2 separate regions of the Homo sapiens genome follow, and region 2 is linked to region 1. The links come from fine-mapping of genetic effects on gene expression. A gene starts in region 1. The other region holds a variant in brackets. All regions are shown on one strand. Distances are between the middles of the regions.

Region 1 (9,366 bases):
ACTTTGTGGACTACATTTCTCCTGTTCCTGGGTCTGTTCTCTTGCAACATATAAGTTTGGTAAGGTAGTCAATAGAAAACATTTGGTTACTGAAAAGTGGAATTGATTGATACTCTTTTCTTTGAGCTAATGCTGAAACACTGGATTCCCCAACAACAACTAAATTTTGTGTTCAGAGTTTCTTCCCTCACTCAAAGAGGAAAGCATGGCACTGTTATTATTTTGTATCTTTTCTTTGGGATAACCATTTCTGAACCAGTGTTGCATGGATTTGGCTGCTGTCTTGGGAACACAGTACTGATGTTGCTCCTGGTGAGCGTGCACTGAAGATTTGCGCTGCACTGTACCTGAGGTTCTCAGCCGAGTCTTCCTGTGTATGTTTGAAGATCTGGTTCTGTTTTGTGGGGCTATGGACAAAATCCACCCTCCACAGTAGGTTGTAAAGAATGCATCCTTTTGGTAATTCACCACCCACTGAGTGGATTTCATTCCTTTTTTTTTTTTTTTTTTTTTTTTTTTGGCTTTTAACTTTTAAGTTCAGGGGTACATTTGCAGGATGTACAGGTTTGTTACATAGGTAAATGTGTGCCATGGTGGTTTGCTGCACAGATCATCCAATCACCTAGATATTAACCCAGTACCCATTAGCTATTCTTCCTGATGCTCTCCCTCCCTGCATCCCCCACAGGCTTCAGTGTGTGTTGTTTCCCTCCCTGTGTCCGTGTGTTCTCATCACTCAGCTCCCACTTACAAGTGAGAACATGCAGTGTTTGGTTTTCTGTTCCTGTGTTAGTTTGCTGAGGATAATGGCCTCTAGCTCCATCCATGTCCCTGCAGAGGACATGATCTCATTCCTTTTTATGGCTGCATAGTATTCCATGTTGTATATGTACCACATTTTCTTTATCCAATCTATCATTGATGGGCATTTGGGTTGATTCCATGTCTTTGCTATTGTGAATAGTGCTGCAGTGAACATACCCATACGTGTATCTTTATAATAGAACAATTTGTATGGGGGGGTTATATAGTAATGAGATTGCTGGGGATTTCATTCTAATGTAGTTTGTTGGTATGGGTTATCCTCACTATCTCTGAAATGACGAAAAAATTCTTAGTATCACCCAAACCTTATTCTGTTTTAATTAGGCATTTCACACAATTTAAATTAGTTTTACAAAGAATGTAGAATGAAGAACACTTCTCATCACAAAGAGTACACATCTCAGCACAAAATAATGTCCCCTCGCCCCTCCTTTTACATTGCTTTTATGACGTGCCTTCTAGAGCCTCAGCAATGCACTTGTACAACTCGTAGCAGAGCACCAAAAGAAACCATGATCAGTGTTAATGTTTTTCCACATTTTGTTATGAAAAATTTCAAATATATGGAAAAGTGGGGGAAAAAAGTATCATGAATACCCATCTGTCTGTTACCCAGATCCACAATGAACATTTTTTTTATCTTTCCCTCTGTCACGCCATCTTCATTACTTTATGCATTTCAAAGTAAGTTGCAGGTGTCTGTATACCTCATCCTTTTAAGGCTTCGTCATGCGTGTCATTTCCTAGAGCTCGGTGCTTGTTGCTGGTTTTTTCTGTGTCGGGTAAAGTTTATATGTAGTGAAATGCAGAAGTCCTAAGCACGTCCTTTGATGAGGTTTGACAATTGCATTCCCTGGGTAACATGAACCCCTGTCAGGATAATCACAAAACATTAACCGTCACCCTAGAGAGTTCTCTCTTGCCCCTTCTCAATCATTCCCACCCCCATCCCTCCAAAGGAAACCAGTGTTCTGATTTTTTCACCATAGGTTCGTTTAACCTGTTCAAGAACTTCATGTGGATGAGATCCTAGAATGTGTTTATTATTTTGTGCAAGACTTCTGTTGCCAGCCACATTAGTGTGCTAGGGCTGTTATAACAAAATACCACAGACTGTGTAGTTCAAACAAGAGAAATTTATTGCCTCACAGTTTGGGAAGCTGGAAGTCCAAGATCAAGGTGTCATTTAGAATGTGTTCCAGGCTTCTCTGCTAGCTCCTGGAAGTTCTTTGCCTTGTGGCAGCATAATTCCAGTCTGCACATGGCATTCTGCTTTTCTATGTCCAAATTTCCCCCTAAGGACCTATGGTCCTCCTAAGGACACCCATCATATTGAATTGGGAGTGCAACCTACTGCAGGATGAACCCTTCTTAACTAATGACATCTACAATGACCATATTTCCAAATAAAGCTACCTTACAAATAAGGTACTGGGGGTTAGGACATCAGTATACAAATTTGAGGGGGTCATAATTCAACCCATGACAGCAGCACCTGGGTTGTTTTATGTACCAGTGGTTTGCTGTTACTGCCGAGTAGTGCTCCATTCTAGAAATGGACTACAGCTAAGCCAAGCTGTACCAAGCCATGCTTGTTGATGGGTGCCGTTTTTGGCTGTCGTGAATAAAGCTGCTAGGAACATTTTTGCACAAGTGTTTCTGTGGACGTGTGCTTTTATTTTTCTTGGATACATACCCTGACCCCGGGGAGGGGGCTAACCTGGGGACACATGTGGAAGGATGGTCCTCTGAAGGCAGAAGGCCAAGCTGTTGGGTCCCCCCACCTTGGCCAGCAGCCGGGATGGCTCTTCCCCAGTGCTGCTTCAGTCTGGTGGAGACAGTAGCTACAAACCACAGATCCTGCTTCTTAAAACTGGGCAACATCATCACATCTATTAATTTGAATTTTTTTTTTTTTTGAGGCGGAGTCTCGCTCTGTCGCCCAGGCTGGAGTGCAGTGGTGCGATCTCGGCTCACTGCAACCTCTGCCTCCTGGGTTCAAGTGATTCTCCTGCCTCAGCCTCCTGAGTAGCTGGGATTACAGGCGCCCACCACCACGCCTGGCTAATTTTTGTATTTTTACTAGAGACGGGGTTTCACCATGTTGGCCAGGCTGGTCTCGAACTCCTGACCTTATGATCCACCCACCTTGGCCTCCCAAAGTGCTGGGATTACAGGCGTGAGTCACCGTGCGCAGCCTGTTAATTTAGATTTTAAGCCAATCTGTTGGTTTCCCTTTGAGGTTGGTGATGAAGTCCTTAAAGGCTGAGATCCGGTCACCTGGACCAGTAAGGAAGTGGGGAGTTGGGGAGAAGGTCCTGTTCCCAGGACAGTAGTGACAGTGGATGAAGGACAGGACAGCAGCTTTTGAGGATAAGGGCGAGAGAAGGGATCCAGGGACCCATTATGGGCCCATGGTGGGAGTTGGGGTCTGGCCCAGGGCCACATCCTCCTTCATCCTCAAGGGAAGGTGAGGGGCCCATGAACTCTCTCAGGGAAGTGCAGGTCCTGATACAGCAACATGGAGAAGCTGTAACCAAGCCGGAGAGAGTCACCGTAGAGCCCAGGAGGAGAGACCCGAAGATAAGCATCACCCTGTGCTGTCATCTCTGAGGGGCGGGCGCTGCTGATAGACACGTGAAAGTCTAGCCTGCAGCAGATGTGAGTCTCAGATGCCTCCGTGGGCAGCCGGAATCTAGATCAACAACTACACTCTAGAATAATCTCAGCTGCCAGTAAGCCAGAGGGGCTTGGAGGGTGAGGAGTCCCTGTGATAACCAAGATCAAGTTCTAAACCAGCCAGCAGGCCTCGCGAGGCTGGCTCACCTTTCAGGCTGCTGGTGTTGGAAACATGAGACTGTGCCTCTCAGCCCAGGCAGGGCCCTGCCTGGGGTCCCACAGCTTCCAGGAGCCAGTAGGGAGCCCAGAGCCTGGCAAGGCCAGCAAGTAGGGAGGGGATACTGCTTGGCAGGAAGTCCTCAGGAGGGAGTGTGAGGCTTGGTCTGCCTAGATCATTACAGCCCAGGGCTTTCTGTACCTAGGACTTCAGTCCCAACCCCGCTGACCCCATCTTAAAGAGGACAAGGGAGGGATATCTGCAGCTGGAAGGAGGGATATCTGCAGCTGGAAGGAGTGTGCCAGCTTGAACAGTGACGGGGCACCACTTTCTGGAAAATATGGAAGAACCTAATGTACATTAGAGCTGTGAAACTTGTGGCCCACACACTAATTTTCTCTAGCACCTGGGCAGACATAGGCAGTTGTGGCATCTCTTTTTATCAAGTACAGACAGAAAAAAAATCAATTAAAATAATTTTATTGTTGTATAATGCACGTGCTTTAAAATGTACCTCTTTTTTTTTGGAGACAAGGTCTTGCTCTGTCACCCAGGCTGGTGTGCAGTGGTACAATCATAGCTCACTGCAACCTCCAGCTTCTGGGCTTAGGTGATCCTCCTGCCTCAGCCTCCCAAGTAGCTAGGACTATAGACATGCCCCACTGTACCCCGTTAATTTTTTTTTTTTTTTAAGATTTCTAGTAGAGATGGGGTCTCTGCGTTGCTCAGGCTGTTCTAGAACTCCAGGCCTCAAGCGATTCTCCCACACAGCTTCCCGAAGTGTCAGGATTACAGGTGTGAGCCATTGAGCCTGGCTATATTTACCATTTGAACCATTTTTAAGTGCACAGTTCAGTGGCAGTAAGAACATTCACGTTGTGTTGCAGCCCTCACTAACGTTTATCTCCAGAACTTTTTCGTCATCCCAAGCTGAAACTGTGTATCCATTAAATACTAACTACATTTCCTTCTCCTCCTAGCCCCTGGCAATTACCTTTCTACTTTCTGTCTCTGAATTTAAATCTACTTTTGAGAAGACACATTGTTCTGGTCCTGATATTGTTGATATTTAAGTTCCAGCTGGCCAGCTAGGCAGTAAACCAAGCAAAATCTCACTCATCAGACCTGAGTATTTTTTTCCTTGACTTGTGTCTGTCATGTGGGGGGGGTTGGGTGATTGGAAATATTTGGTATCTACACAGCAGTCTTTCTGCCTTTGCCATCATCCTGTGCATATGCTTCTTGATAATTAATATGTGCATTCAGTTAACCATTCATGGGATCTTTTCTTTTATCCGATTCTCCGCTCCTTAAGGACATGGGCTGTGTCTTGTTTGTCCCTGTATCCCAAGCCCTGAGCACTATGTCTGGTGCTTAGGGTGCTCAATATTTATTTTCTTTTTCTTTTCTTTTCTTTTTTTTTTTTTTTTTGAGATGGAGTCTCGGTCTGTTGCCCAGGCGGGTGTGCAGTGGTGCGATCTCGGCTCACTGCAACCTCCACCTCCCAGGTTTAAGTGATTCTCCTGCCTCAGCCTCCCGAGTAGCTGGGATCACAGGTGTGTGCCACCATGCCCGGCTAATTTTTGTATTTTTAATAGAGACGGGGTTTTGCCCTGTTAGCCAGGCTGGTCTCGACCTCCTGACATCAAGTGATCCGCCCGCCTGGGCCTCCCAAAGTGCTGGGATTACAGGCGTGAGCCACCATGCCCGGCCTCAATATTTATTTTCAATATTCCACAGATGAGGGCAATAAGGAGAGGAAGCGGAAGAAAAAGGATGAGACATGTGGCTTGTGGGCAGAAAGGGAGGCAGGAGAACATTCCCAGTCTGCCTTTCACTGAGTTTTTACCTGTTCACTAGAACAACAAAAGGGAACCCGATCGGGAAACTCTGCTGTCAACTAAGCAAACTCTAAATTTAACATTTGGGGGACCCCCTTGGAGAGTAGTTGAGAGCTATGTGCTCCCCTTTTCAGAAAAATGCTCTCAAATACTCAGTGCATAAGCCCACAGCCTTAGCAGGTTCCCAGACCTTAGGTCAGCAATCCTGTTCTAAGGCATACATCACGAGCAGCATTTTGATTTTCATCTGGGGAACTTATAGTTCATAAAGACCTACTGATCCATTAAAATTTCCACTTGATTTTGCCATTAGTAATCTCTTAAACAAGTCCAAGGAAGCCAGAGGAAGTTATTTCTTGAATGCTTTTATACTAGTGCTTTCAAGAGTTCGTGTTGCTGACTCCAGTTTTTAAAATTATTATTCTCATCTTCTGCAATGCCTCGAGGCATGTTTTTAGCTGAATAGCAATAATTATGGGATTGTGCAATACTGGAAGAAGCAGTAAAAATAAAATGTAATACTAAAAAAAAAAAAAGTCTTTACTTCATCTAGGAAATTCAGTTTAAAGAATTTTTACCTCCGGACATAACAGTGACTATGCTGGAACTCTGTCTTTGACTCAAGCCAGAAGATGGATGGGACCACCCTTAGGAGCCTTCCACAGGAAGGCCCTCTCCACAGTAGGACTTAGGGCGCTCATGTAGATCCCTCGGCAGTAATGCGCTAGTTGCTCCTATAGTCAGGAGGCATCTAGGGAGATCGCTGATCTCCATGGCAACCTGGACCCAAATGAGCAAAGTGCCATCAGCTGGCCTCGGCCTGACTGCTCTGGCGGGAGGGAGGAAGCTGATGCTGTCTCCCACCCAGGCCGTGTAGCCATTTCCCCCACCCCCACCGGAGGTCTGAGAGTGTCAGGGCTTCTGCCCTTGGCTTCAGCCAGTTCTCCTGGAGGTCATTAAAGGGAAGCCCTTCTGGTGGCAAGTTCTCTGCCACAATCTACAGTGAGAATCTAATGATGGTATCAGTTGTAGAGGCCCCTTGATCTCTGGAGAGGGTTCTTAGTGCCAAGGAACTTTCTAGAACCATGGAGGAACCCTGCAGGGACCTCTGAAGAGTCCTGAGCAAAGAAGTGGGGAAAGCTGTGTGGGTGTGCACCAGGGTCTCATCACCCTGCCCTCAAGGGCAGCCTCAGTATTATGACTTAAGGACTTGGGGGTTTACATAACATCCCTTTTTGTCAGCAAAGGAAGTTCCTTATTTCTAAACCTCATGGTCCCAGAAAACCCAGTTCCTGATCTAGCTGTCCCGTTAGGGCATTTCCATAATACAGCACGTTCTTAAGCAGACATTAAGTCAGACAATTAGGTCCCAGCTAAGCCTTGTCTTGACCTCTTAAGCAACATATCTGCCCTCCCTTTTGCCTTCTCTCTTTTCCTTCTCTGTCACAGACACAAGGACTAGATGAGAATGACACCCTGGGGCTATCTGATATACTTCCTCAAGAAGTATTAGTAACACAAACAACAACAGAAAAAACAAAGTGAAATTTATTTATCATGAAGCACTTTATTTTATTTAGTTATTTTTTTTTTTTTTGAGATGGAGTTTCGCTCTTGTTACCCAGGCTGGAGTGCAATGGTGTGATCTCGGCTCACTGCAACCTCTGCCTCCCGGGTTCAAGCAATTTTCCTGCCTCAGCCTCCCGAGTAGCTGGGATTACAGGCATGCGCCACCACGCCCAGCTAATTTTGTATTTTTAGTAGAGACAGGGTTTCTCCATGTTGGTCAGGCTGGTCTCGAACTCCCGACCTCAGGTGATCTGCCTGCCTTGGCCTCCCAAAGTGCTGGGATTACAGGCGTAAGCCACTGCAGCCAGAAGCACTTTAAAGCTTATCGTTAAGAACAAATATGCAGTCATGCAAGAGCACACTGTTAACAAATTACCGGCTAACTAAAAGCTAGGCGAGTTCCATATCAATATGATTAAACAATTGCATGGGAAAATTATTATTTAGAGGAATGGAAGTAGTCACTAGTACGTGTTGTCAGTAGCTTCTGTTTTATTCCTAAAAAGACGAATGAGAAAATGAGGTATTATGAAGGAAGAAGCAAGAGTAAATGCCACCATGGTAATTACTGCCCGGGGCATATGAAGAACTGTTTTTTTGTATTCTAATCTCCGTCACCGAAACTCATCAGTGATGCAGGACCCAAAAATAGAAGGACATTTTGGGTGGACATGTAGTTAATAATGACTTATGCAGCCCAGCACCTGTGTGGGCTGGCATTGTTCTAAGTGCTTTTTCCTGTGTTACCTCATTTAATCTTCACAACAGCGCTGTGAGGTTGGTACAAGTATTATGTTGATTTTATGGAGGAGGAAACAGGTGCAGAGAGGCAAGGTACTTTGCCCAAGCTTCCTTTGTCAAAGCTCACAGAGCTGGGGAGGGTGCCCACGTGTGTGTACCTGTACCCACTGTGCATGCTGCCCGTCACGGGCAAAGGGGCTTCCTTTTGCTGTCTTTGAATCATGGATTTATTCAGTGTCATGGGAAGCCATGCATGGGTTAGTATTCTGGCCACATCAGTGAATGCTACAGCCTGGCCCCATCATGCTAATGTCAGGAGGAGTGCGGGGGATTGGCAGAGCATGGGGAGGATGGCGGTCTCCTGCTGAAACTCTGTGGAGTAGCCTCAGCTACCCTTTCACAGAGCAGGGTTTGGTCTCTGAAAGGTGAGGTCTTTCACTTGTGATCATGGTACAAGGCTGTGGTACTTCTCGCTCCAGGAGCTCGCTGGAGAACATATCGAGGCCTGTGTGGCTCCTCAGCCCATACCCTCAGGAGAAGGAATGCTCTCCTCAGGTTTGGAATTGCTTTTCTTGGTCCTTGTTTCTAGTAGGGAGTGAGAATAGACATGAGTTGTGCCTGCTGGGCAGAGCCTTTGCAGGCCAGGCCTCCTGGGCTGCCTTGGGCGTGTTCCTTGAAGAGCCAGTCCTGCAGTTGTGGGTGGGAGAGGAGCTTCTCTGAGATGTGTTATCAGGAACCTTGGCGGAGGTGGGCAGTTGACCTTCGGCTTTCCCCTTGGCCTCTAGGGATTCATATCTCATAAAGAACAGAAAAGAGGAAGGCAGCCTGGCCCTTCCCCTCACCCTTCCCTCTTGGCGGTGTTGCGGGAAGGGAGGAGCAACTCTTCCTCAACATCCTCGAAGCTCAGTGTCTGGCATTGTAAGGCCAGTGGTTTTCAAACCTCTGGGCTCAGAACCTTTGTTCAAAGCAAGTGTTACCTGGCAGCCACACATCCATCCAGGCAGCCCCATGAGGAATGCTCAGATCCATCTGAGAAGAGTCTGGAAACCCACATCTTCATTTCCCACCATGGCCCTGTCAGGGGAGACCCTTTGTCCTGTACCTTCCTGTCGTGTTCTTTCTACGTTTCACCCACTGCCTTCCTCGTCCTTCCAAATTAGATTATTAATCTCATGAAGAAAATACAGCTTTCTTCCTGTGATTCAAAACATCTTTTGTGAGCTCTAAAACCATGCCGATTAAGGAATTATGAATTTAAAATAATATTAAATGGTCAGTAGCTTTTATTGACAAATGATCTTGGGACAAAGCCATTAGATTTTTTTTCTATCTCTTACAGAACCCCCCTCCTGTTAAAACATTACTCATTGAGAAGTGATCCATTAAAAGAAAAATGTGTTGGATTTTAAAAAATACCTAATCCTTGGCAGGGCGCGGTAGCTTATGCTTATAATCACAGCACTTTGGGAGGCCAAGGTGGGTGGATCACTTGAGGTCAGGAGTTCGAGAACAGCCTGGCCAACATGGTGAAACCTCGTCTTTACTAAAATTACA
Region 2 (9,366 bases), 54 kb before region 1:
CCCTGCAAACCTTTGTGCTGAGAGCAAGTAACACATTTTTAATGTGTTAAACCTCTGGGATTTGTTGGGTCTTATAGCAATGGTTATTTTACCCTAATACGACTGTAAAATAATGTTCTAAAATCTACAGTCGGGTTTGTTTAAAATATTATCGCCATCATTATTATAATCCATAGTCCATATCATAATTATTTTTATAGAAGTCCTTCTCAACTGGCATCTCATAATTTGTGGCTTCTTATATTGTTGCCTTCTATGTGTGAGATGCCTCTCTGAGTCCTTTTTGCTAGGGACATGATAGAAAATAAAATATCCAACATTCTGGTGTATTTTATAATGTACAAAGTCCTGTTTCATGCATTATCTCTTTAGATTCTCCCAACAAACCCAAGGAATATGTAAGGGTCTATAATCATCTTCATTTCACAGGTGATGAAACTGAGACGTTTACATGTAAAGTGGAAATAACCACTTATTTATTTATTTATTTATTAAATAAAAACCCCGCTAATTTATTTAAAGATTAATTGAGAGAATTATTTCATCTGTCTGGAACCTGGTATGTGTTAAGAGAAAAGTTTTCTTAATTTTTCTTTTTAAGAAGATAATCTATTGCTACATAACAAACCACTCTGAAATAATGACTTAAAACATTAAAAGTCATTGATTTTGCTCACAGAACTTGAACTGGAAGATATAAACAACTGGGAGTGAGGGTGGGGCTGGACAGCTGGCTTCTCTGGGCATCTCTCGTTCTTTCTGTGGTTTTGTCACATGTCTCTACATGGCAGCCCTAGGGTAATCATGACAGCTGAAGGCTTTAGAGTGGGTGGAGGGGGAGAGGGAGGGAGGGAAAGAGAGAGAGAGAGAGAGAGAGAGAAAGAGAAGCAAGCAGGCAGAAGCTCTAATGCCTTATGACCTAACCTTGGAAATAAATTACACTGTGCCACTGCCACTACCTTTTCTTAGAAGCAAGCAGATAGGGTTGGTGAATATTTATTGAGAGGGGAATTAGACTCCACCTCTTGATTGGGGGAGTGTCAAAGAATTTGTGAATATGTTTTTAAATGACCACATTTCCCCTTTCTAAAATGCTTGTCTAAATTGGTGTACACAAAAAGCTCGGGGGTTAGTGACTCATCCAAGGTTATTAAGCTGTTAAATGGTTCCACCAATACTAGATCTAATTTTGTGACTCCAAATTTCATGCTCTTTTTCACTACTCCAGATAATCTCCGGTGAACATCATTGTCCATTAGGGTAGTTAAGACATTCTAGCTGCCAAATAGATTCAGTCCTTTTAATTGCCTCGGACAATATATTTTTTATTTTGCAGAAAATAAATATTACCCATATGGCAGTCATCCATAAACACCTTCCAAGTTTATCCCAAACATCTGTGTTTTAAATTTTTTCTCCCAACAGATGTATTCATTTGCATTTTCCCAGATGAATCACTCTTTTTTTGTTGTTGTTGTTATTTTTGACTGTATTTCTCACCTCTCAAGACCCTTTTGTATTATCAAGCCCACTGCTTAAGCTAATACCATCTCCCAATTTGGGGACTTCCCCTTGATTCCTGTGTGCCCTTCCTGTGGGTCATTAATGCAATGTTATTTAAGACTAGGATTTGGCTGGGCGCAGTGGCTCACGCCTGTAATCCCAGCACTGTGGGAGGCCGAGCCGGGAGGATCACCTGAGGTCAGGAGTTCAAGACCAGCCTGACCAACATGGTGAAACCACGTCTCTACTAAAAATACAAAATTAGCCGGGCATAGTCACATGCCTGTAATCCCAGCTACTGGGTAGCCTGAGGCAGGAGAATCGCTTGAACCCGGGAGGCGGAGGCGGAGTTTGCAGTGAGCCAAGATTTCACAACTGCACTCCAGTCTGGGCCACAAGAGCGAAAACCCGTCTCAAAAAAAAAAAAAAGACTAGGATTTGACATAAGGCCTGAGGGGTATTCTTTTGTTTTGTTTTGCCTTGTTTTCAAGAGGCCAAAATCTTCACAGTTGAAAATTTCTGTTGAACCACAGAGATTTGAACCAACTCAGTTTAGAAAGCCTGGGGATTTGAACAACGGTATGGATCGGAAATCTCTTCATCTGTCAGTTTTCATCATTCTAGGCAGTAAAATAGATTTCCCTTTAGGAGCTTTTCACCGTTTGGGGTTCTCCAGCAGTGGGATGTGGGGAATCAACCCTTCTTCGTCTCCACCCAAACATTAGGTGGGAGCAAGGGGTGGGAAGTAGAGAAAGTGGATAGAGGTCTCCAGTGGATATGGGATCTTTGTGTAGACCAGCACAGTCCTCAGAAATCTCATGCAAGCAACATAGGTACTGTTATATTTTCTAGTGGCCACCTTTTAAAAAGTAAACAGGTGAGGCCGGGCGCGGTGGCTCACGCCTGTAATCCCAGCACTTTGGGAGGCCCAGGCGGGCGGATCACGAGGTCAAGAGATGGAGACCATCCTGGTCGACACGGTGAAACCCCGTCTCTACTAAAAATACAAAAATTAGCTGGGCATGGTGACGCGCGACTGTAGTCCTAGCTACTGGGGAGGCCGAGGCAGGAGAATCACTTGAACCCTGGAGGTGGAGGTTGCCACGCTCCACTACACTCCAGCCTGGCGACAGAGTGAGACTCCGTCTCAAAAAAAAGAAAGTAAACAGGTGAAATTAATTTTAATAATATATTTTGTTTAACCCAACGTATCCAAAATACTATCATTTGAAAGTGTAATGAATATAAAAATATTCATGAGATATTTTTCATTCTCATATCCATACTGTCTTGGACTCTAATGTGTATTTTACACTTACAGCACAATTAATTTGGGACTAGCTACATTTCAGCTCAACAATAGCCAATAGCATATGGGATAGCGCAAATAAACTCTGCGTCTCTGTTGCTTCTTTGGGTCTCGGAGACCTCAACCCTTTCTTCAGATTGCAAACCTTCTTGCCTTCAAGCCTCGGCTCCAACACCAGTCCGGCAGAGGAACCCAGTCTAATGAGGTACGCTCCCTTCCTGCCATTCTCTATTCCATTAACCTGTTTCGTGGTAAACGTAGGACTGATCCTCCAAAATTACCTTATTAATTAGCTTACATATTTATTATCTATCTGTCCCACCAGAATGCAGGTTTCCGGAAGGCAGGGATTTAAAAAAATCTGTTTTGTTCTATGTGATTTTCCCATACCAAGCACCGTGCCCGGCACAAGCTGGGATCCCAGTACACATCTCGGGACGGAAGAACCGTGTTTCCCTAGAACCCAGTCAGAGGGCAGCTTAGCAATGTGTCACAGGTGGGGCGCCCGCGTTCCGGGCGGACGCACTGGCTCCCCGGCCGGCGTGGGTGTGGGGCGAGTGGGTGTGTGCGGGGTGTGCGCGGTAGAGCGCGCCAGCGAGCCCGGAGCGCGGAGCTGGGAGGAGCAGCGAGCGCCGCGCAGAACCCGCAGCGCCGGCCTGGCAGGGCAGCTCGGAGGTGGGTGGGCCGCGCCGCCAGCCCGCTTGCAGGGTCCCCATTGGCCGCCTGCCGGCCGCCCTCCGCCCAAAAGGCGGCAAGGAGCCGAGAGGCTGCTTCGGAGTGTGAGGAGGACAGCCGGACCGAGCCAACGCCGGGGACTTTGTTCCCTCCGCGGAGGGGACTCGGCAACTCGCAGCGGCAGGGTCTGGGGCCGGCGCCTGGGAGGGATCTGCGCCCCCCACTCACTCCCTAGCTGTGTTCCCGCCGCCGCCCCGGCTAGTCTCCGGCGCTGGCGCCTATGGTCGGCCTCCGACAGCGCTCCGGAGGGACCGGGGGAGCTCCCAGGCGCCCGGGTGAGTAGCCAGGCGCGGCTCCCCGGTCCCCCCGACCCCCGGCGCCAGCTTTTGCTTTCCCAGCCAGGGCGCGGTGGGGTTTGTCCGGGCAGTGCCTCGAGCAACTGGGAAGGCCAAGGCGGAGGGAAACTTGGCTTCGGGGAGAAGTGCGATCGCAGCCGGGAGGCTTCCCCAGCCCCGCGGGCCGGGTGAGAACAGGTGGCGCCGGCCCGACCAGGCGCTTTGTGTCGGGGCGCGAGGATCTGGAGCGAACTGCTGCGCCTCGGTGGGCCGCTCCCTTCCCTCCCTTGCTCCCCCGGGCGGCCGCACGCCGGGTCGGCCGGGTAACGGAGAGGGAGTCGCCAGGAATGTGGCTCTGGGGACTGCCTCGCTCGGGGAAGGGGAGAGGGTGGCCACGGTGTTAGGAGAGGCGCGGGAGCCGAGAGGTGGCGCGGGGGTGCCACCGTTGCCGCAGGCTGGAGAGAGATTGCTCCCAGTGAGGCGCGTACCGTCTGGGCGAGGGCTTCATTCTTCCGCGGCGTCCCTGGAGGTGGGAAAGCTGGGTGGGCATGTGTGCAGAGAAAGGGGAGGCGGGGAGGCCAGTCACTTCCGGAGCCGGTTCTGATCCCAACAGACCGCCCAGCGTTTGGGGACGCCGACCTCGGGGTGCCGTGGTGCCCGGCCCCACGCGCGCGCGGGGCTGAGGGGTCGGGGGCGTCCCTGGCCGCCCAGCTTTAACAAAGGGTGCTCCTCTCCACCCCGCGAGGAGGGGCAGCTCCGGAGACCCGGTCTTCAGCGAGCGGGGTCTTAGCGCCGGGGAGGTCTACTTCCTTTTGGGGTTGCCATTTTACTATTATTATTGCCTTTTTTTTTTCTTCAAAAGGACTGGAGACTGATGCATGAGGGGGCTACGGAGGCGCAGGAGCGGTGGTGATGGTCTGGGAAGCGGAGCTGAAGTGCCCTGGGCTTTGGTGAGGCGTGACAGTTTATCATGACCGTGTTCAGGCAGGAAAACGTGGATGATTACTACGACACCGGCGAGGAACTTGGCAGGTAAAGGGGGTACCAGAAGCGTACCCT[C/T]CTGGATTGTGGAAATGCATAACGATGGGGCCATTGGGTGGTAAACAAATGCAGTTTGAATCAGGCGTCTCCCTCGCCCTTTCTGGAGATGCGCAAATCATAGAGAAAAGAGTTACTAACCCAGCGGTAAACCGCCTGATCCAAGGGCCTGGGGGTGGAGGAGAGGCAGCAGTTCAGGGCTAGATTATGATGCACAGTATATTGATCCAGTCCCCTGGACAAAATCAGATTTAATTGTCCGTGCTAACTCTTGTCAGCCCTTGCCCTTCTGTGACAACAGGACAAACACTAAGATTATAATTGCAATTGGAGTTAGCTTTTATGTGTGATTTAAACGGAGGGTACAAACTAATTAATAGGTTTTAAAAATCTTAGTACTTTACCCTCTATCTAAATTTTCAGTGTAATTTGAGCAAGTATTGGTAGGTGGTAAATGGAGACTTGCCAGATGTTGACATTGGGCTTGGATTTTGAAACTTCTTCCAACCAGGAATTTAATTACCTGGTTGGTGTTGGTGGTTGCTTTGGTTTCATTTACAATGTTAAATTTTTAACAAATCAATGAGAGTCTAATATGGCTATCTGGATTCAGAGCATACCTCCATTGCTGTAGCAGCTGTGATTCTCAGTGTAAAATCTTTCAGTTTCTAGGTAAACAAAGAATAGTTTCTTTCGGGGCATCTAAGGGCTGATTGCTGTTTCCTTTGACTGTGTATTAGACAGAGTGTTTTGGGCTCTGGTCAACTTTAGTAGAAAACCTAGTTTTCATACATACATTTAAAACTGAATTTATGGAATTTGACTGTGGTGTATTTACATTGTGAGTGGAGTAGGCAAAAGGATCTTTAAACAAACAAAATATGTATTTACTTATATGTGCATTGAAATATGTATTTTCCCATATACATCTGATGTCCTGATACAAAGCTTCCTTTTTCTCCATGAAAAGGAAATTAAAAAACACCCACATCCTGGATTGCCTAATGAGAATTATGGAAACTAAGCTTAACTAAATTTTTTTAAAAATTCAAATGATAGTGTAGAATTTTTTTAAAAGTTACTGTAACAGAGTATTTCTCTAAATATTTAGTATCGACTGAAAACATAGATGGGGGCCTGTGCTTAGGAAGAGCTCTCTGTATATTGATGATCTGGTGAGTAAATAAGGAAAGCTCTTCAAACATCACATTTCATGGATATGTTTAAGATTAAAGTTTAAGAGTGTGTGGGTGAAATATTTGGTTTAACTGGAATTAAATAACTTTACTGTGGTTTTCAGCAAGATGAGTGGTATTTGGAGTTTTCCTTTGGGACTGGAAGAAAAAAGCAAAAAAATAAATTTTAATTTGATTTGCATAGTGTGGCCTGATCGTTTAAGTGTTGTTAGAAAGAGAGATGACTAAAATTAGTTGAGATTATTATATTATGGATTAAGTATATTGACCTTATTTTCATTATGATTTTTTGGTACCATTATGTGTTATGAGAAAGAAATAGAAAAAGAGGCCTCCCTGTGGTTGGCGAAGGGAGTTTTTGATCTTTATTTCGTGGGCGTGATGATGAGGGGAGGGAGGTGGCTTACTTATTTGTCACTAGCACTTTGATTTGCTCAGTGTACATTTTTGTGTATAACGTTCTCCCCACTGTGCAAGGCAAATTGACAAATTGTTTATTAAATAATTTGTGTGACCTAGGAATTTTAAAGAAATGCTCTGAAAAACTGGAAGTCTGAAGTTTTTAAAAATGAAATGTACAGACTCATCTATCTTGTATAACTGCTATTGTTTTTGCCAAAAAATGAGTGAATGATTGTTTTTTGGAAAATTTTTCAAGTCCTGATTTTATGTCTGCCTTGGATGTAGCCACTTCCTGAAAACAAGTCCTAATGTAAAATGGACATGTAGGAAGATGCTGCTTATATGACATCACGTGTCACTGAGGGAAGATTGGGAGTGGAGGCAGGAGTTTGGTGGCAGGAAAATGGAAATGGGCAGATATGTGGCACAAATGCAAGGTCATTCTAAGCAGTGAATTACTAGTAGACCAGTATCTAAGATTTAAGACTTTACTTGGCCAGGCGAGGTGGCTCACACCTGTAATCCCAGCACTTTTGGGAGGCTGAGGTAGGCAAATCACGAGGTCAGGAGTTCAAGACCAGCCTGGCTAACATAGTGAAACCCTGTCTCTACTAAAAATACAAAAAAAATTATCTAAGATTTAAGACTTTAATTGGCCAGGCGCAGTGGCGCGCGCCTGTAGTCCCAGCTATTTGGGAGGCTGAGGCATGAGAATCGCCTGAACCTGGGAGGCGGAGGTTGCAGTGAATGGAGATCGCGCCACTGCCCTCCAGCCTGGGTGATACAGCGAGACTCTGTCTCAAAAAAAAAAGAAAGAAAAAAAAGACTTTACTTATATATCTTTAGCAGTCATCTAAATAATAACGATTCACTTACCTTATAAATGTAGTGAGACAAAGTACATAGCCAGGAGGAAAGATGGGTTTTTGAAGAAGTAGAGTACAAGTATTATTGTTAATGTTATTTTACTTTTAGGAAAATTGAAAATGTTCGTATTTGTGTGTACTGCCTAAGACTTCTGTAAAAGCTCTCTGTCAACGGTCAGGAACTTTATAGAGTATTGCAACTATTGCAGCAGTCCATCTGCAGCAGTAATAGAGCAGATGGGCCACTGGACAGATACCCTGGTCCAAAACCTGGCTCTGCAACTTGCCAGTTTTCTTGAACAGGCCATTTACCCACTCTGACACTCAGGATTTTCCTCTATGAGAGGTTTAGTGCTTTTTTCATTGCTGTTGTAAAAATAATCTAACTTGTAAAAGTAGTTGATCAGCAGTAGAGAGTTAAACAAATATAGATATTATCTGTAGACTGGCTGAGACATCTGGGTGCCCCAGGCAAGCTAATAACTTGGCCGGCAAGTCAATATTCTTTAAGTTTCTGTTTACCAGCTTTGGGAGGGGATGCCTTATAGGAAAAGGGTCATGGGGAGAAGGGTTGCTGACAGCATTCAGCCTCCACTATGATTCTGAATAATGCAGCCCTGGCCTTGAGCTGGCACACCCTCCAAGCAGAAGCAAGTCCCTGCAGCAGATGCACTTGTTATCTTTAGAAGGGTGCTTGGTGGCCTTCAGTTTTGGCTCCTGGAGGCCCTTTAGGGTCTCACCCTCTGTCCCAGGAGGCGGAACAAAGAACTGCCTCCATGATGTGTAATAGTCTCTGGGAGGAGTTCTTATAAATCTGCTATTATACCGAGGTGTTTTAATGCCCCAGGATGCCCTAGCATCTCTTATCAGTTGGCACCTCGGGCAGCTGCAGGCTGACTTGCCCCATTGTCGGGCTCTAGTTACACCCTTGGCCGTCGTTCAGCCTAACCTGTGAGCCTCCTGGGCACCTCTCTGTGTACACTGCTTTCCTGAGGGACTGGCCTTCTTTCCTATTGCACCATCTGACCTTATATGATCTTAAGACCTAAGTCCTACTTCCTTAATGAATCCTTCCACAATGAGTTTCCCCTTTTAAAGTCAAGTGACTTCTCTGAGACTCTCTTTGTCCATGACCATAGACTGCCCAGTGACATGTTTATCCTGTTTCATGTTTATTAGTCTTGTATTACTCTTTGCAGCCAGCTTGTGAGTTTCTTTGGGGTGTGCCCTGTGGTTTGGAGTTGTTGTGGTCCTTTCTCCCCATGGTGTGCAGGGTTTCATAGACTTCCTGCAAATTGGTATCTATGATCAATATTGGGATTAATGCATGCCTCAATGAGCTAATGCAGTTTGGCAAGTGTAATTTTGAGACCAGAATGGGGATGTAAGATGCAAACGATGATGCTGATGCTGATACTGTTAGAGAGGCAGTGTGCAGTGTGGAAAAACCTGAGAATGCTCATTTGGAAAGTGGGGAGACACCTACCCTGGTAGAGTGTTGTTAGAATTACAGACGTGGCTTTAAACATCTGACATGCAGTCTGTCTTTCTAGTCTACAGGTAGATATGCATTTACTGAACACCTACTAAGTGTGATGTGTCTAAAATATATATATATGTATATGTTTTTTATATATATGTGTGTGTGTATATGTATATATATATATATTTTAGAGACAGGGTCTTACTCTGTTTCCCAGGCTGGAGTGCAGTGGCACAGTCATAGCTCACTGTAACCTTGAACTCCTGGGCTCAAGCAGTCCTCCCACCTTGGCCTTCCAAAGCTCTGAGATTATAGGGCAGAGACACTGTGCCTGGCCTCTAATATATCATTTTTATTATTTTTAATAACCTGTTTTCTCCATCACAGCATTTACCACATTGCATAGTAACTGCTTATTTGATGATCTGCTTTCTCCATGGGGCCATTACCTTGGACTTGCTCCTCACTTTTTATTTCTAATGCCCAGGTTGATGCATGGCACTTAGAAGGCGCTCAGTAAATGCATGCTGTTAGACTAGACTGAGTGGATCAATATATG

Direction of the effects. Alleles are on the strand shown, and positions count from the first base shown. SD is a standard deviation of normalised expression in the study named.
For the expression in monocytes of the gene that starts at base 5,033 in region 1, allele T in region 2 goes with a lower level than allele C (large effect, 0.89 SD a copy in BLUEPRINT).

The links.
Region 2: its variant is fine-mapped to the expression of DAPK1-IT1 in monocytes (BLUEPRINT, PIP 0.95).

What each region holds. Positions count from the first base shown.
Region 1 is chr9:87,548,422-87,557,787 of GRCh38, forward strand. It overlaps DAPK1-IT1 (DAPK1 intronic transcript 1), which reads left to right and starts at 5,033. Exons shown (of 2, transcript NR_146781.1): 1 at 5,033-5,169; 2 at 5,474-6,038. All of the region lies in intron 2 of DAPK1 (death associated protein kinase 1), which reads left to right. RefSeq lists an enhancer at 7,413-7,582.
Region 2 is chr9:87,494,286-87,503,651 of GRCh38, forward strand. It overlaps DAPK1 (death associated protein kinase 1), which reads left to right and starts at 3,582. Exons shown (of 26, transcript NM_004938.4): 1 at 3,582-3,822; 2 at 4,685-4,854. The coding sequence starts at 4,793. RefSeq lists silencers at 3,231-3,290, 3,311-3,660, 4,031-4,220, 4,431-4,540 and enhancers at 3,931-4,688, 8,307-8,366. The variant C/T (reference allele first, on the strand shown) is at 4,882.